2 linked regions of the Homo sapiens genome follow. Changing the gene in region 2 together with the main gene of any one other region gives a genetic interaction. Each region holds a gene or a part of one and is shown on either strand. Other genes may lie near its edges. The genes, in order: NF1 and ECHDC2.

The links.
Region 1: changes in ECHDC2 (region 2) and NF1 together harm fitness more than expected from each alone (negative genetic interaction), as found in Homo sapiens cells (one large-scale study listed by BioGRID).

The regions. Positions count from the first base shown.
Region 1 is NC_000017.11:31,374,477-31,378,293, reverse strand, and holds the end of NF1 (neurofibromin), read right to left. Parts: 3' UTR 619-3,817; downstream 1-618. UniProt on the Homo sapiens protein: Stimulates the GTPase activity of Ras. NF1 shows greater affinity for Ras GAP, but lower specific activity. May be a regulator of Ras activity.
Region 2 is NC_000001.11:52,918,923-52,923,286, reverse strand, and holds the start of ECHDC2 (enoyl-CoA hydratase domain-containing protein 2, mitochondrial), read left to right. Parts: upstream 1-1,546; 5' UTR 1,547-1,613; coding exon 1,614-1,734; exon of another isoform or gene 1,735-4,364.

The sequences.
Region 1 (3,817 bases), on a different chromosome or scaffold from region 2:
TGAGGTACCCCTGCTTTCCAGGCCTGCCCATAAACAGACAAGTACTTGCCTCAGACCTGCAGGTATCTATCACCTGGTCTTTTTTAGTCCTTTGTTCAATATCAGACACTGTTACCCTTCTGAGGATAGCTCTGTCCTGTCCACTGGGTCTGGGCTGTGTTCTTTCTCCACTGATTGGGGGAGGCAACCCACATAATCAAGTAAGTAAAATAGTAACACGGGGCAGCTGAGCCAGGGGAGGTGGTTTACATTGTATACACGTGTAGTGTCACAGAAGATTCTATAGCGGGAAAGCTGAAAAGTTGGAGAGAACTGCCCTCTGACTGGTCAATCTTGGGATGCCCTGACATTTCTGACTGGCTTCATTTTAAGAGAAGCCAGCTTATCCCAGAGAACAGACTCACCTGAGTTTGGCAGGCCCTAAAAAAGCATTTCACAAAAATATTTCACTTTTAGTGTGGAGAAGTTCTGGAAATGGAAAGATCTTTCTCACGGGGAGTAGGAGAGCCAAAAACATCCTTAAGGAAAATGGCCTTAATGTTTCAAAAGATTGGGAGGACTCGGGGGGAAGAAAACAGAGCTCGATACATCTGAAGAAATTAAATAACTCCTCATATCTTAGAGCAGATTGAATTTACATTTTACTTAAAAAAAGGGGGGTGGGGGAAGTACATACACAAGGAGGAAAATGGGGTGAGGAACAATAAAGATCTGAAATGGATTTCTATGATTTTCCCCTACAATGATCGATTTTGTCTGTTGGGCAGTATTTTTCCTGCTGGCGTACAACTGTTTACAGTATTAACAAGGTTGTAGACAAAGGAACTGCCAAAGTTTAGGCCCGGATGGAAAGGACAGTAAGTTATCATATACAATTTAAGTTTACAATACACAGCATTTTCTTTAAATGATGTAACGCAGTCGCAAAAAGAAGTTAACAATACTAACACGAGAATAATCAAATTTTTGTTGTTATCCATGTGCAGCAACTAACTGCTTTACAAAAAAGCAAAATAATACAATATATCATCACATATATTTACAGTATAGTAAATATACTTTTTTTGTCAAATTTTACACAAACTATTTACAGGTGAATATACTGCATTAAAAAAAATTGTGTGGCTGACACTAAGAATGAATTTTTGCCTAAATCCATTGCATAACATTGAGTAAGACATGCCTCATTATGCCTGGGAGTCGGGGAAGGATGTAGAAACAAAAACAAAAAACAAAAAACCCAAACAAAACTGAAAACCCCTAAAACCTACAAACCTGGGAGGGTTGCTGGCTGGCACTCTGTCTCCCCAACTAGGACACAGGATAGAAGCTGACTGTTTAGGATGTGTCCTGGGCACCTGGCTCAGTCATGAACAGGTGTTGAGTGAATGGAAGACAGAGCTGTAGCCACTTTGCCCCAAATCTACTGAACTGCATCTCCATCTGGGCAACTAAGGGCATGCCCCTCGGATGGGAGTACTGGCATAACAGGTAGATTATCCAGGACAAAAACATGACTGAGTTCCTGGTTTCCTCTTTAACAAGTCAGGGGAAACATCTACAAACCGAAACGAATTACTTATAATATTTTTAACAGAACTTATGTCAATTACGCAGAAATGGGCAACTTGGTCTAAACTTCAGAATTTCTTTTATAGATTACAAGTATGAAGACTAAAAAAGTGTTGCATTTCTCAAGGGACACATAGTGGTGAGAGGTTTATCTCATGTACATTTTAGTTACTTGGAAAGCTAGATTTTCCTCAAAAGTCAGAAGTTCTTTAAACAAGGTAAATTTTAAACCTTAGTTAAGTTTTCAAACTCCTAGGATGTACTTACTAGTCAAAGGTATTTTTGCATTTCAAAGGCGGCTGAATTTTGATTTGTGCCAATGCTGATCATTTCAGGCGGTATGAAATACTACACCCTTGGTAAACCCGTTTATGGAAATATCAGTATTTTTAACAGTAAACCTCTGGAAGTTTCTTTATTTTGATGGGAAGAGCAAAATAGCATAACACCCACTATCATATGCACCAAACCAACAAACAAAAACAAGAAAAACATCGAACTAAAGTTATCAAAGGCTTACACTGCCTGCTATTCCAGGGCCTAGAAACTGTGAAACTTACCCCAGAAACACTGGGTTGTGGGAGAGCCAAGACCATGGTGGCAGCTTGGCATCCTTGGCACTGGGTTACTGATCTATTTCTAAACACAGTTCTAATTTCAGCTTTTTTATATAGTCATAGTTGCTCTGTCATTATAAACATTTTCTTCTAATGCAGCCTCTACAATAGTTTAAAAACAAAAGTTTAGTAAATTGCACCTGTCTTCAGTATTTCCAACAATTCTATGGTAAACTCATTAATAATACTAAGGTTTTCTTTCCTCTTATTTTGGCAAATAATTCTTACTTTTCCCAGGACTGTAAACAAATTTAAAAAATTAAATTCTTGTTATTTCTGAGTATCAAAACCAATTTTATTTACATTAACATATTACATTGTTACTGTGTGGATAAATGTGAAATATATTATTAAAATCAGAACACTTAAATGTACCATTATTTATTGAATTAGCTGTGGAATTTAATTTACTGAAATCCTCTAATGAAACAGCACTACAGGAAACTCCCCTCTCCCCTAGGTTTATTTTTTCCCCCCTCAAAGCCATTATATCTTAACATATAAAGGGAACCTGGGAGTAGAGGGATTAATATCTTTTTGTAATAAATATGGTTTAGTTCTAAATTGGAACATCCAGATACCAATATGCTCACTGAAGTCAAATTATTTTGTAAACTGCAGGTACCACAAAGAAATTGGATCTGCATTACTATGAAAATTCCAATGCCATGATAATCCATACCACCAGTATAGCAGCAATTCTAACAGCCCCCCTACTGTCATACTAATGCAGGCTGACCAGTCTTTTCACAGTGATTAAATGCAATTCTAGCATATATAACCTACATGTTTTCTTAAAGAGGTTTCTGATTTTTTTGGAGAGGAGGAGGAAGATTAAAAGACATTCAAAATACATCTTATCAAAGAAATTTATAATATACACCATACTCTATTCTTGGAAATTATTTAACAAAATAAAAATATCAGCTACCCTAAATGTCACGTACCATTCCATTTTGCTATGGAGCTAATGCAAACATCTATGAAAATTACCTTCTGGGAACAATTTTCAACACTTTGTTCACTGATTACCCTGCTCAGAATTAGTTAGGAAAGAAGAGGGGGAGGGGAAAAAATATATATATATATATAATTACTATACTTAGTATAGTTTTGGTTTACAAAAAACAAAACACAAAAAAACCACCTTTAGCAAAATTAAAAATTAAAAGATAATCAACTGGAGAAAAAAATAAACTAGTTTGGATGACTGAGTTTGGATAAGGACTTAGAAGCCATAGTTTTAATTCAGTAATGTTAAGATATATGTGGTCGCACTTATTTTCCTGTAATTATTGCTAATACTCAAGTGTTAGTATTTCTTAAGAATCCACTATAAAATATGAAATTTCCCTGCCCTCCCCCCCAAGTACCTTGTCTGTGGCTTTATGGTGTCAAGTCACTGAGGCTTGACCTCTATGGTTCTTTCAGTTTTGTACGGTTAAAAAAAAAGTCCACAGCTAAAAGATTAAACATACTGGGGTTATAATACTATTTCTCTCATAAACTTGTATCTTGAAAAATGTATAAATAGGACTAACACTTTACTCTGTAGGATGAAGAAGGGAAAACCACAGAAGGCAGAGCTCTGTGCAAATGGCTTTCATCACTGGCCAGTAGTAGCAGTA
Region 2 (4,364 bases):
ATTTTGACTTGTTTCATATACCAATAGATTTTGAAGATTGTTTCATATCAATGCATAAACAGTTTCCTGTGTTTTGTTATAGCTGCATAGTATTCAGATTATTGATGTACCTTTTTTTTTTTTTTAAGTAGAGATAGGGGCTTGCTATATTTCCCAGGCTGGTTTCAAACTCCTGGCTTCCAGGGACCTACCTGCCTTGGCCTTCCAAAGTGTTGGAATAATAGGGTGAGCCACCACACACAGCCCCATAATTTATTTAACCAACCCTCTATTGATGGATATTGAGACTGTGATATAGTTTGGGTGTTGGATCCCTCCAAATCTCACGTTGAAATATGATTCCCAATGTTGGAGGTGGGCCCTGTTGGGAGGTGACTGGATCATGGGGACAGATCCCTTGTGAATGGTTTAGCACCATCCCCTTGGCGATAAACTGGGACCTCCCCACCTAATTTTCTTGTTCCTATTCTCGCCATGTGACATGCTGGATCCCTGTCACCTTCAGCCATGATTGTAAGCTTCCTGAGGCCTCACCAGAAGCACATGACAGCACCATGTGCTTCCAGTCTTTTGCTATTATAAACAATGCTGCAATGTACAGCCATGAACACGTGTCATTTCACAGCTGTGTGGATTTATCTGTAGGTTAAATTTCTAAAATTGGAATTTCTGGGGCAATGAGCTTGTGCATTTATAATTTTGATATAAATTACCAGTTGCTTTTCATTTAAAGACATTCACATCAGCAATGTGAGAGTGCTTTGTATATACTGTGTTTAAGAGAATAATTTTTTTTTTTGGGACGCAGTTTCGCTCATTGCCCAGCCTGGAGTGCAGTGGCGCGATCTCAGCTCACTGAACCTGTGCCTTCCGAGTTCAAGTGATTCTCCTGCCTCAGCCTCCCAAGTAGCTGGGATTACAGGCGCCCGCCACCACGCCCAGCTAATTTTTTTGAATGTTTAACAGAGACAGGGTTTCGTCATGGTGAAACCCTGCCTCTACTAAAAATACAAAAAAAATTAGTTGGGCGTGGTGGCGCGTCCCTGTAATCCCAGCTACTTGGGAGGTTGAGGCAGGAGAATCGCTTGAACCCGGAGGCGGAGGTTACAGTGAGCCAAGATCAAGGCACAGCACTCCAACCTGGGCGACACAGCGAGACTCCGTCTCAAAAAAAAAAAAAAAAAAAAAAAGTGAGGCGCAAATGGGAGGTGAAGCAGTGAGGTTCGCAAGTGTAGACACGCTCAAGGGACTCATTAAATGTCATTTCATTTAAAAAATGAAATTGAGCATATGTGCAAGCAAGGTTCACACACCCCATTTAATCTTCACACCACCACGGGGTAGTCACTATTATCCCCATTTTACAGGATTAAAACACTGACGCTGGGAGGTTGACAGAGTTACACCAAATCACACAGAGGAGCTGGGCTTCCCCCGACCTCCTCCGCTCAAGTCTCCCTGTCCCCGGGAGGTGCGGAAGGAGGCAACAGACGCTTGGCCCATAGGTGGAGCAATTGGCGAAGGCTTCGCCCGACGCCGGAACTGCGAGCTCTCAGCGGGAGCCGAGACGGTGCAGGGCCGGAGAAGCACCTTCACTCCCAGCCTGCGCCCCGATGCTGCGCGTTCTGTGCCTCCTGCGCCCCTGGAGGCCCCTTCGGGCCCGCGGCTGCGCTTCCGACGGGGCGGCCGGGGGCTCAGAGATCCAAGTGCGCGCCCTGGCGGGTCCGGACCAAGGTAAATGTGCAGTTCCGGGGCGGCGCATGACGCGACTGGGACTAGGCCGGAGGCAGCGGGGGACCGGCAGGTGGGCCGCTCAGTGCGTTGAAGGATTCGATCCCCAGTCCCTCCCTCCCAGTTCTAGGCGCCCCAAACCGCTCCAGGCCTGAGAGGTGGGCGGCCGCCTTAGTGGCTCCAGACTCTAGCTGGGGGCGGGGGGCCTCTGGCAACCTCGGTCTCTTCAAAGGCCCTTTGGGGTCTTCCGACTGTGTGGAAGGGGGAGCGGGGTCCGCACGGGTAGGACTGGGCCCCGCGGCCCCCAGGCCAGGAGCGTTTAAGTGCGCGTTCCCCTCCCCCGCCAAGGGTCCTGGCCCGGTTCGGGGGCGGAGGCAGCGGAGCCAGTCCCAGTGCCCAGTGCGGCAGCGGGCAGAGTGAGGAGGGTGCCTCTCCAGCCGCGCGCCCGCCCTGGGCCGCTAGCGAACCTTTGCGTCCTTCTGGCTCCAGGGAAAAGTTCGCTGTTTCTCCGCCTTTTGGCCAAGATCAAGGATAGTATGGAGCGGGGACGAGGGGTGGGGGGCAAAGTTCGCGGGTCACTGGCAGAAAACGCCTCTGATCGCGTGTTGCGTTTTTGTTGTTGTTGTTGTTTGAACTTCTGGAGCATTCAGTGGTGCTGATAACGCTCCTCAGTCCTCTGCTGGTAACCATCAGGGCTAGGCGCTTCTCCTGCCTTGGGTCTCCTCCCCGCATCTCATCCCCTGTCTCCTGCATTTGATACACAGATGGCATTGTACTGTACATTTCGTTGTATTGCTTCTTTTTTTTTTTTAACAAAAGTTTATTCTTAAATGTACAACAGCTCCAAGACAACACTTAATTCCAGCCATAGGTGGCAAAAGATGTTATGGCAGGGAATAGAGAGGTTTAAATACTGATGAAATAAAGGGTCACCATCTCCTTAGGCACAGGGAACAGCTTACTTTTTGCCAGATTTCTTAATTCCACTTGTGGCCAAGGGCCCCTTCCCCGTGGCCTTCCATTTTAGCTCCTCGAGTTTCTTCTGCTCCTCTTTTTGTTTCTGCTTGAAAGCCTTATCTTCCTCGTCCATCTCCTTGGCCTGCATTCTTGGGCTGTTTCAGTGGCTTCTTGCCACCTTCGTGGCCGGACATGGCGCCTGCCGCCCCTTCCCCAGCAGTATTGCTTCCTTTTTACCGGCTTGACAACAAGTTTGAAGCGGGGCTTTGCCATAAAATCCAGTTCCTTGCTCCCTGCTGTTGCCCACTGTTCCCAAGTGTGCATCTACCACCTTCAGTGGACACGGACAGGCCACCTAGAGTCCCACTGCACCACTTGGTGAGAATTTCCTTGAACAGTTAATATTGCTGAACCTTATACCCCCAATCTCATGCTTAGTTCACTACCCAACTGGCAACAGCTCTTAAGACAGTCAAGATTATTCTCCCCACTTTACAGATTAAAAAACTGAGGCACAGAAGGTTAAGTTATTTGAACCAGGTCTGATTTCAAAGCCTGTGTTCTCAACCATTAGGTAATCACTGGCTCTTCTAGTAATTCAGTGACTCAAAATACAGACTTGTACATGTGTAAACACAAAATTATCATGGGTTAAAGACCTTTAGGCTCACTTGCAAATATCGGGAATCATTTTATCCAAAAAAGAATGACAAGGATCAGCAGATTAAGCCTCTGCCCCTGCCAGAGGGCTCAAAGGGCAGGAAAAGGCAGTGAGAGAAGGAGAGACAGAAACCAAGATGACAGTGCAGAGGAGGCATGGGGATGAGATCACACACGGAGCCCTCACAGGGAATGAGTTGGGGTCATTTGATGTTCATATTAGAAGCTGCAGGTTCTGCCTTCCACTGGGGCTGATGGCACAAGAGCACTGTTACATTTTACCTGCTGCCTTTGAGCTTGAGGTTGGGTGGTAAACCATTCTTCACTGTTCTTAGCGGCTTTATTTCTCATAGAGTCATGTGTTGCTTAACAACGGGGCTACATTCTGAGAAATGCATCATTAGGTGATTGTGGTCATTGTGGGAGCATCACAGAGTGCACCTACACAGTCCTAGATGGGGTAGCCTACTGCACACCAAGGCTACATGGTGTATAGCCTGTTGCTCCTAGAATACAAACCTGGACAGCATGGTACCGGGCTGAATACTGTAGGCAACTGTAACACAATGGTAAATGTGTATCTGAACATAGAAAAGGCACAGTAAAAATACAGTCTAAAAGATTTTTTAAATAGTACACCTGTACTGGGCAGTTACCATAAATGGAGCTTGCAGGACTGGAAGCTGCACTGGGTGAGTCAGCGAGTGAATGGTGAGTGAATGTGAAGGCCTAGGACAGCAGGGACTGGTTTGGCACCAGGGACTATTTTCATGAAAGACAGTTTTTCCATGGACTTGCGGGCGGACAGATGGTTTGGGGATGAAACTGTTCCACCTCAGATCATCAGGCATTAGATTCTCATAAGGAGCTCGCAACAACCTAGATTCCTCACATGCACAGTTCACAATAGGGTTCGCACTCCTATGAGATTCTAATGCCACCACTGATCTGATAGGAGGTGGAACTCAGGTGGTAATTCAAGCCATGGGGAGCTGCTGTAAATACAGATGAAGCTG